Linked DNA regions of Homo sapiens: regions 1 and 3 are each reported to be linked to region 2. Evidence: microRNA targets listed by miRTarBase, many of them from high-throughput screens and not tested one by one. Region 2 holds a microRNA gene; each other region holds the end of a gene's coding sequence.
What was found. The annotated mature microRNA hsa-miR-204-5p reads UUCCCUUUGUCAUCCUAUGCCU and lies in region 2 at 1,757-1,778, opposite strand. An mRNA with a match to its seed (bases 2 to 7 or 8) in the 3' UTR can be bound and repressed. Matches are read on the target gene's strand: a 7mer-m8 pairs with bases 2 to 8, a 7mer-A1 pairs with bases 2 to 7 and ends in A, and an 8mer does both.

Region 1 (3,260 bases), not on the chromosome of region 2:
GGTTGGTCTCTATATGTTAAAAGCATTAAAAGTGTGTACACACTTTGACCCAGGAATTTGAGCTCTAAAAAAAATCAGAGTTGTGTGCAAATACATTAAGCTGCTTACCACAACAATGTCCACTGGTAGAAAACTGGCCCTCCTACATCATGGAATTCTTTTTTACAGAATTCAGTTCTGTAGCCTTGGGAGTATACTAGACAGGAAGTTTATTGGCATGAGATTTCAGAATTAAGTGGGAAAACAATTCTTTAAGCATGTACAGAAAAGTGACCTGAAATGTTTTTGGGTGATGAACTTACAGACTTTTTTTTTTTTTTTTTTTTTTGAGGCAGGGTCTTGCTCTGTTGCTCTGCCATCCAGGCTGGAGCAGTGGCACAATCATAGCTCACTATGGCCCTGGCTCAAACCATCCTCCCGTCTCAGCCTCCCAAGTAGCTGGGATCATAGGCACATACCACACTGAGCTATTTTTGGTAGAGATGGGATCTCACTATGTTGCCCAGGCTGGTCTTGAACTCCTGGGCTCAAGTGATCCTCCCACCTAGGCCTCCTAAAGTGCTGGGATTACAGGTGTCAGCTATCGTGTCCAGCCTGAGATATTTCTTATGAGTAATGTGGATGGTACGTGAGTCCATAGAGTAAGGCATTTATTGTAAACCTCCAGGGAGTTTCTGAAAATAGTATCTTCTCTTCAAACCTAGGATGAAGCTGGAGGCAGATTCGTCGCTTTCTCTGGAGAAGGACAGTCATTGCGTAAAAAGGGAAGAAAGCCCTAAGTGAGGACTGTTGGCTGATTGGAAAATAATAAAAGAATCATTTGCAACATCTTGGCTTTTAGTTACTGGCACTGACAGGGACGAGCCTCATCAGAGAATACTCTGTTACTTAAGATTTATTTAGAGTTACCTAAGAATTATTAAGTTTGACTTGGAAGTGGAGCAGCAGGACTTTGTAGTTGTATGCTTGATTTGGGGAAAGACAAAGAGCTGTCCCTGAGGGCCTGTAGATAGCTGCCTCCTCACCTCTTCACGCTTTCAGCTTGAGGGGAGCTCCCACTGCCTCAGCAGGAGCAATTCTGCATCCCTAATTCTGTCAAAACCTATGAAGGTGACTAAATTGTCTAACATGAAGTGTTCTTTCTTTTTCTTCATTTATCCTTTCTTTTCCTACATCAATTGCATAGGTGTCAGTCTTTGGCCTAAAAAAAGGCTTTAAATAGACATGTGTTCTATAAGTAGTGGCTGTCCCACTACTGTGGCTGCAATTTAAGTATTTGACAAAGAATGTTTCTATTTTTATTTTACATATTTTTTTCAAAAACACCACTCAGAAGAACCTGATCTGAATGAGTTTGCACTTTTATTCTCATTTCATATGGACATAACTGGCTCCTTAGTGAACCTGTTCATAGTGAAACAACTCCATGGAGAAGCAAACATGTGAATGTTAGAATGAACAAATGCTAAAGAGATGTTCCTCTCCTTCTTCCCTACTCCCCAACTCCCAATTTTAATTTATTAAATCATCCAAGCTTCTGCTGGCCTGTATTTTTTATCAGTATTTATTTGGTCTTAGATCTTCACTTTCTATAACGTGAGATCTTTTGACATGCTAATCTGATTATTTTAAATTTGTTCCCATGAGCCACTGTGCCTGGCCCCATTGGGAATAATTCTAAGCCAAGAATTTCAAGTAAAAACAGGCAATAACTAAAGCCTAAATCTAAATGTTTGATTAGGTACTAACACAGACTGGTGGTTGGGCCTCTGACCATAACTGAAGGCCTGTTGGCAGGTGCTCCGTGTTCCATCTCACCATTAGAAAAGTGTCCCTCTGGGGCTTCTCCTGGAGAAAGTAGGAAGAAACAAGGCTGCCTGATCCCTAGGTGGCAATGGCTAAGCCCAGCAGGGTCCCCCATGAGCCAGGGCTAACCCTGCTTCCAGACATGGGGGTCCTGCCCTGGTCAGGGCCCCTCCAACACTCCAGAGAGGAGAGAATGGTGGCCCCAGGGTCTATCCACGTCTTCAGTGAAGAGTGTCTATGAGTGTCATGATGTTCAGTACTTGGCCTGTGGCACAAACCATCATCACTGGAAATGGGCGTGGTTTTGGAAGGCATGAGCACTGTGGGGACTTACCTGAGCCTCCACTGACAAAGTCTCAGTTTTACTAGCAGAGGGAGAAACCCTTGGTGGGTAGACAGCCTTCATTTGCAGGATCACATCAGCTAACAGACTGTCACTTTATGCATAATGAAGAATGTTACAGTACCTCTGGCTCTGGGTTTTTGTCTTCACTAAGCAACACCTGCTGTGTATGCAGTGAAACGCCTGGTCCTTTGCTGGAGGCACACTCCCCTGCCTGGACCAGGATGGATTCCATTGCAGAGCCTTTTAATGACACAGTGGGGCCAGTTGGAGCACTGATCCTGGTCATTACTCCTGCACCCTGGCCTGCAGCCTTCCTCTCAGTGTCTTATTTGGGCTTGGTCCTTGAGCCGGCTGCCTCAACAGCAGGACCCCTGGTAAAACTGCAGCTTTCTGATCCACCTCCAGGGAGTCTGTCCCAGTGTCATTCCTGGGACTGGCCCAGCAGTCCCAGGATTTGTATCAGTGGATACTGAGGATTTGTTATCAGTGAAGTGGGAGAACCGCAGCATAGGTACTGCAGGGCGTTTCTGCAAGCCCACCAGCCTCCTCTTTACTTGCCTTTGTTGCCTCTTGTGCATTGCTCCTTTTTATAAACGTCCCAGCCAGGCACTGGCGCTCCGCCTATAATCCTAGCACTTTGGGAGGCCAAAGTGAGAGGGTCGCTTGAGGCCAAACTAGCCTGGGTAACTTAGCAAGACCCCATCTTTACAAAAAAAAAAAAAAAAAATTAAAAATTAGCCTGGTGAGGCTGTGCATGCTTTTGGTCCCAGCTGTTCGGAGTCCAGGAGTTTGAGGTTGCAGTAAGCCATGAACACGCCACGCCACTGCACTAAGCCTGGGTGACACAGCAAGACCCTGTCTCGAAAAATGAATAAGGTAAATGTTACATGTCTCCCGCACCCTTAGAATAGAACTACAGACATCCAAGCCACTCCTACCCCGCTCACCCCTGCTACACACCGCCTCCATACCTTTGACCGGCCTATGGCTGTACTCGGATTGCATTCTCAGCCTCCACTTCAAGCCTGCGTTCCCTGGGGAGGTCATTCAACCCTAGATCCACCATATGTCATGCCCAACCAATCTCAGTTACTTTGCGAGTTCACCT
Region 2 (3,260 bases):
GAGCTCAAAATTCTTCCCTGAATGTAAAAGTGTCTAAGAAGTCTTAGAATGGTGGACAGCTCTCCTGTTGGGACCTACTTGTTTACAAGAACTATCCCAGTCCCTGAACAACTAATTCCAATGTAGAAAAGTCTCTTTGCTGAAAAAAGGGAGGTCTTTAGCTTGAATAGGAAAATGGGTGAGATAAACATGACAAGTCAATACCAAGAAACCAGTTTCGCTAAAATTTGCTCTGTTCCCTCAAAGTTATTTTTTTGGCTTCATTATTACCTTTATTGACAAAGTAACTTTTCATTAACAAGCATGACAAATATTTCAGTTACACAGCCAACTGTGTCAAGTCGTTTCATATAATGAAAAAGCAGGGATATAGATTGTGTTGTTTATTCCTCACAAATTATTCTTTAGAGGGAAGACCCTCTAAAAGGCGGAGAAAGCTTTAAACATGTTTACTTGACAGCACCTGAAAAATGATGTCATTACAGTCTAAAGTGAACTGATCATCAATTTGGTATTTGTGTTTTGGAAGGCCTTTCCCTTGACTGTTTGAGGCAGTAGAAAGTTTGCATGATTGGGCTGAACAGATTGTAGCACCCACAGAAGGAAATAAGATGTTCTTGATATACAGTCATGTGTTGCATAATGACACTTTGGTCAATGACAGACCACAAATACAATGGTGGTCCCATAAGGTAGTAATAGAGCTGAAAAAGTCCTATCACCTAGTGACATCTTGATGATTCTGACCCTGTGCAGGCCTAGTTTAATGAGTGTGTTTGTGTCTTCATTTTTAAGAAAAAAGTTTAAAAAATACAAAGATAAAAAATTTTAAAGACAGAAAAAAGCTCATAGAATAAGCAAATGAAGAAAATATTTTTGTATAGCTGCATAATGTGCTTATGTTTTAAGCTAAGTATTATTGCAAAATAGTCTAAAAGTTTTAAAACGTTAAAAAGTTTACAAAGTAAAAAAGTTACAGTCAGCTAAGGTTAATTTAGTTTTGAAGAAATAAAATTTAAAAAATAAATTTAGTATAGCCTAATTATACAGTGTTTATAAAGTTTACAGTAGTATACAAAAATATTCTAGCACTCACTCAGTGACTCACCCAGAGCAACTTCCAGTCCTGCAAGCACCATTCATGGTAAGTGCCCTATTAAGGTGTACTATTTGTATCTTTTATACTATGTTTTTATTGTGTCTTTTCTATGTTTAGATACACAAATACTTACCATCGTGTTACAGTTGCCTACAGTATTCACTACCACATAGTAACATGCTATACAGGTTTGTAGCCTACAAGCAATAGGCTATACTATATAGCCTAGGTGTGTAGTAGGTTATACCTTCTAGGTTTGTATAAGTACACTCTATGATGTTCATGACAAAATCACCTAATGATTCATTTCTGAGGATATAGTAACCCCATCGTTAAGCAATGCATGACAGTATATGTAACCTGTCCAGGGGAATCTTTGCTTCCTTTTCAAGTCACATGGTTTGGACCCAGAACTATTAGTCTTTGAGAGTATATTTCACTCCTTCCTAATTCCAGAGCTGCTTGGATGAAGTTCTACTATGACCTTTAACATACAGTGTTTTTCATCTCTCTTATGGGACAGTTATGGGCCCAATGATGGAAAATTTCATGTCATGGTTATCCCAATGCATTTGATGATGGTGCAATGATCAAAAAAGATGCCAGTGATGACAATTGAACGTCCCTTTGCCTTCCCAGCCTCCTTCATATATTCTCAGGCATAGGATGACAAAGGGAAGTCCACGAGTCACATGAAGAAAGACTGTAGCCATGGGTACGCGATCAGGAAGTCCTCTGCTTGCCTCCACCCCCACCCTCCTTTCCATCACCCTGTCCTATGGGTACATGATCAGGAGGTCCTCTGCTTGCCTCCACCCCCACCCTCCTCTCCATCACCCTGTCCTATGGGTACATGATCAGGAGGTCCTCTGCTTGCCTCCACCCTCACCCTCCTCTCCATCACCCTGTCCTGTGGGTAAATGATCAGGAGGCCCTCTGCTTGCCTCCAACCCCACCCTCCTCTCCATCACCCTGTCCTATGGATACACGATCAGGAGGTCCTCTTCTTGCCTCCAACCCCACCCTCCTCTCCATCGCCCTGTTCTATGGGTACATGATCAGGAGGTCCTCTGCTTGCCTCCATCCCCACGCTCCTCTCCAGCACCCTGTTGTATTTCTTCCTAATATTGTTTCTCCACCATCTTGCAACTAACCACCATCTTCTTCCCAAAGTTTTGCTTGATGACTCATTCCAACTGAATCAATGCTCAACCTATATTTGGCACAGAGTTGGTGCTCAAATAGTTGCTGAATGGAATAATGACCCTCAAACTCTCCAAGGTAACCAAACTTTAGGGGAGCCTTTTTAAAAAAATGAGATAATGCTTCCATGTGTAGGATGAAAGGAGAAAGTATTTTGGAATTATGTCAGCCTAGGTTTGCACCCAGCTGTGCCACTAATTGGATTTAAGGCAAAGGCTTAACCTCTTGGAGGTGCCATTTCATCAACTGTATAAAAGGAAGAAAATAATCCCTATCTTGAAGGGTTTTTGTGAGTATTAAAAGAGATAGTATATATGAAAATGCCTAGCATGGTGCTTGGAACCTAAATAAATGCTCATTCCCTCCTAGTAGTATCCCAATAGTGCCGTCAAGCTGTCCTATATGGTATCTTTAGGATGATAAATAATAGGGAGTAACTAATTTCTGATGTGGTTGAATGTCAGAAGAGATAGAGATAAAACAACAGTCATAGGGAGTGATACTGTTAGGAAATTATAAAGGAAATGAAGACTTCTGTGGTTAATTTCTTGGAGTTTAAGAAGAAATTCACATTTTCCATTAATTATACTTACCAACTGAGTCTAACTGGCAACTACCCCAAAATGAATAAAACAAGCGGGAGTCAAGAGAGAAAAACGGCAGGCATCCTGTCAAAAAATAAAATCTTTGAAATTTCTACACCCTGTGGTTGCATACACATTTTATTAAAGCAGATGGATTACCCAATTTACATAAATTTATATACGTGATGGCAACTCAAGTTGCACAGTGAAACCTATGTAGAGCATCATCCAGCCCTTCTGCACCAGCTATATCTTGTCTTATCACTCCTTCAACTGGACAGGTCCTTAAAAATCATAGCTCTTTGCTGGAGGAAGTATCATTCTTTATTCTCTTCCAGCCTAGATAGCTTCTGTGGTGTGGAAAGGGTCAAATG
Region 3 (3,260 bases), not on the chromosome of region 2:
ACAACTATTTCAAAAGTCAGCCAAGTCCGGGTAAGTGTCTTTGTATAGAGATAAAATAATGAGGCAAATTCCTAGTGTGATTTAGAAATAGTATAGTATGCTGTGCTTTGTCTTTAGCAATACCCACCACCGATAAATCCATATTTGAGATAGTTTTTGTTAGAATTAGTAGGAATAGAAAAAACAAACAAGAAAAGTTCTTAATGAGGGAAAGATAAGTAACAACACCTGAAGCTTTGGTTACCCTAACTCTCATACGCTGCTATAATGAATTGAAGTGGGAGAAAATTTTTTAATATTTCTTGTATTGCACTCCAGGATGTTATCGGCTTCAATATGGCTGGTCTTGATTATCTCAAGAGGGAATGCGAGGCAAAAAGTGAAGTTATGTTTTTTGCTGATGCTACTAGCCACTTGGAAGAGAAGAAGAGGAAGAGGAAAAAGAGGGAGAAGTTGATTCTAACGTTGACTTAGAACTGAAATGTGGTATCTTTTTTTTTTTCAACTTTTTCCTTTAAAGGACTCCTAAACTAAGCACAGAAGAGTTGGCGTCATCTTAAAAATACCAAATAACAGAAGATCGCATTGCAGATGATATCAGGATGTGGTTTCCAGCTTTGCCTGAGGGAATTCCAACATGAGATTATGGGCTGGCTCCATTTCTTGGACTTAAAATGCATTATTAGTTTAAAAATCTTTCTGTGCTCTCAAAGCTTGAGCCTTGCAGCTCAAGCTTGTTGTTCCCTTTATATTCTAGCAGGGAATAAATAATTGTTTTAATTAGGTATTTGTTTCATTGGAGTTGAAATTAACATTTCAAAAGTTTTTCGTATTTTTTTATGGCAGATGATTTGTCATTTATTTATATTAGGTTTTACTGCCTATTGAGACAACCAGGTGCATAATTGATTGCCCTTTGGCCATAAAAATGCAGTGTCATGGATCTTAGAGCTAAAAAGGACTGTAAAAATTACCCAGAACAGCGTCCTCAGACTTAACCTTCTGCAAGTTATGTCTGTATATAAGAAGATTCTAATTGCTAACTGTTTATACTTTTCTGAATAAAATAGTTGTTTCTAATTAAAAAGTAGCCAAGCTAAGATGCCTGGCTGGGCTTCTGAGGAATTAATACACTCGTGTGTGTGTGTGTGTGTGTGTGTGTGTGTGTGTGTGTATGTGTATGTGTATGTACACATACATATATATAGTTGACACTTGAAAAATGCAGGTGGTAGGGGCACTGACCCACCCCTACGCCCCGCACAGTCAAAAATCTGCATATAACTTTTGATTCCCCAAAGTCTTAAGTACTAGTAGCCTGTTATTGACTGGGAGCCTGACTGATGTATTATATATATTGTATACTGTATTCTTAAAGTAAGCTAGAGAAAAGAAAATGTTACTTAGAAAATCATAAGGAAGAGAAAATATATTTACTGTGTTTATCAATACTATAAGTGTATGTCATCTGTTTATAAAATGAATTGTCTGTCTGGATTGGCAGGCAACCACAGCCGCAGACCTCAATCTGTGGTACTTATCAAGCATCAGCTTTTTCTTGTAATGTCATGACTTTTCTCTGCTTTTTGGGAGCACTGTGATATGCAGTTTACTGGGGCGATGAGTTGTTCATGCACAGGTGATTAGTGTCACAGCATTTTAAGTGCATACGCACAACACTTGAGCTCACTGCATAGCAACAGGAGGTGGCTGTGAAATTATTTCAGTAACATACTGTGTATTACAGTTCATTTTATGCAGCTATGATTTAATACTGCATCTTTACATTATTTTACATTTCTCCCAAAACTGTGAATTGCACCATGTATGATCTGTATTTGTGTGTGTTAATGTTGATAATAGATTTGCGTGTATTTTATGGCAGTAAATGATAAAATAGTCTAGTATCTACATATATTTTGTGCATTCATGATATAACTACTTTTTTCCTAATTTTTTTCATCTGAAACTTTTCTCATTGTTTCAGATCTCCAAAAATTTTTCCAATATATTTATTGAAAATATCTGGGCTGCGTGCAGTGGCTCACGCCTGTAATCCCACCACTGTGGGAGGCCGAGGCAGGCGGATCACAAGGTCAGGAGTTCCAGACCAGCCTGGCCAACATGGTGAAACCTCATCTCTACTAAAAATACAAAAAACTAGCTGGGCGTGGTGGCAGGCGCTTGTAATCCCAGCTACTCAGGAGGCTGAGACAGGAGAATCACTTGAACCCGGCAGGCGGAGATTGCAGTTAGCCAAGACAGTGCCACCAGCATTCCAGCCTGGGCAACACAGTGAGACTCCATCTCCAAAATAATAATAGTAAAAAAAAATCTGTATAACAGTGGAGCCAAGTGGTTAAAACCCATGTTCAACGGATTGTCTACTGTATATCTTCATGGTAAGGATTTGGGGAATGTTCTAGGAAAAGATATTGACAGATACCTCTGGGTCTGGGCTTTTCTTTTGGGGAAGTTTATAAATGACTAAATCATACTTCTTGTTACAGGCCTGTTTAGATGTTCTGTATCTTCTTGAGACAGTTTTGCTTTTTATCTTTTTTGTTGTTGTTAATCCCAAAGATTTAAAACTATGGTTTCTGTCTGAATTTGGTCATTGCAACCAAGTTACTGTGTTGTGGGGCCACCATTTTCTTCTAGGCTCAGATATGCAGTCCTTGTGGCTTGCCGATTTGTGTCCCAAACCACAAGTCTTAATGTTCTTGAGCATAACACAATCACTGAAGTGAGTAAGGGATGCAGTGGTGTTATTTGTTGGGCAGAATAAATAAGTGAATTTTGGCATAGAGTTTCTGAAGGCATAACTATGAAGGCAAGAGAATAGGCAGGCAGGATAATGCATTCTAGGTGCTTTCCAAGGAGTCAGTGTTGTTTAGGCAGCTATTCCTGCCACCAGGGAGAGGAGTTAATTCTTGAAAAAAAATTTAATTTTTTATGAGAACAGAAGTTGATTCAATATCCTTCTTAGAGTTGCTCATCAGAACATAAATGTCACTTTCTAGTAACATTTTTGATGGTTTCCAAACCAAAACAAGTTCCAGGAGGGCATTCGAGATGTATACATCATCAATAATTACTCTTATGTTAAAAGTTGCTGTTTTCCCGTAGCTTTGCCACCATTTATAACTCAAAAGCCTGATAGTGCTAGGGAATGTAAAGATGTTTCTGTCTGCTAAGTGTTATACTAATCGAAGAGAAGGAGAACTTTTATGATAAAGTGACATGTACAGAACCTAGCC

Region 1: miRTarBase lists UFD1 as a target of hsa-miR-204-5p. The part of its 3' UTR that is shown has no 7-base or 8-base seed match.
Region 3: miRTarBase lists WDR3 as a target of hsa-miR-204-5p. The part of its 3' UTR that is shown has no 7-base or 8-base seed match.

Annotation. Positions count from the first base shown.
Region 1 is chr22:19,448,189-19,451,448 of GRCh38, reverse strand. It overlaps UFD1 (ubiquitin recognition factor in ER associated degradation 1), which reads left to right. Exons shown (of 12, transcript NM_005659.7): 12 at 705-1,538. The coding sequence ends at 779. It overlaps UFD1-AS1 (UFD1 antisense RNA 1), which reads right to left. Exons shown (of 2, transcript NR_186687.1): 1 at 3,124-3,260. Among named protein-coding and RNA genes, the nearest start is that of C22orf39, 2.1 kb to the right of the region's middle.
Region 2 is chr9:70,808,275-70,811,534 of GRCh38, forward strand. It overlaps MIR204 (microRNA 204), which reads right to left and starts at 1,810; the gene lies at 1,701-1,810. All of the region lies in intron 6 of TRPM3 (transient receptor potential cation channel subfamily M member 3), which reads right to left.
Region 3 is chr1:117,958,974-117,962,233 of GRCh38, forward strand. It overlaps WDR3 (WD repeat domain 3), which reads left to right. Exons shown (of 27, transcript NM_006784.3): 26 at 1-30; 27 at 319-3,260. The coding sequence ends at 474. The region is part of intron 48 of SPAG17 (sperm associated antigen 17); the gene reads right to left. Among named protein-coding and RNA genes, the nearest start is that of WDR3, 31 kb to the left of the region's middle.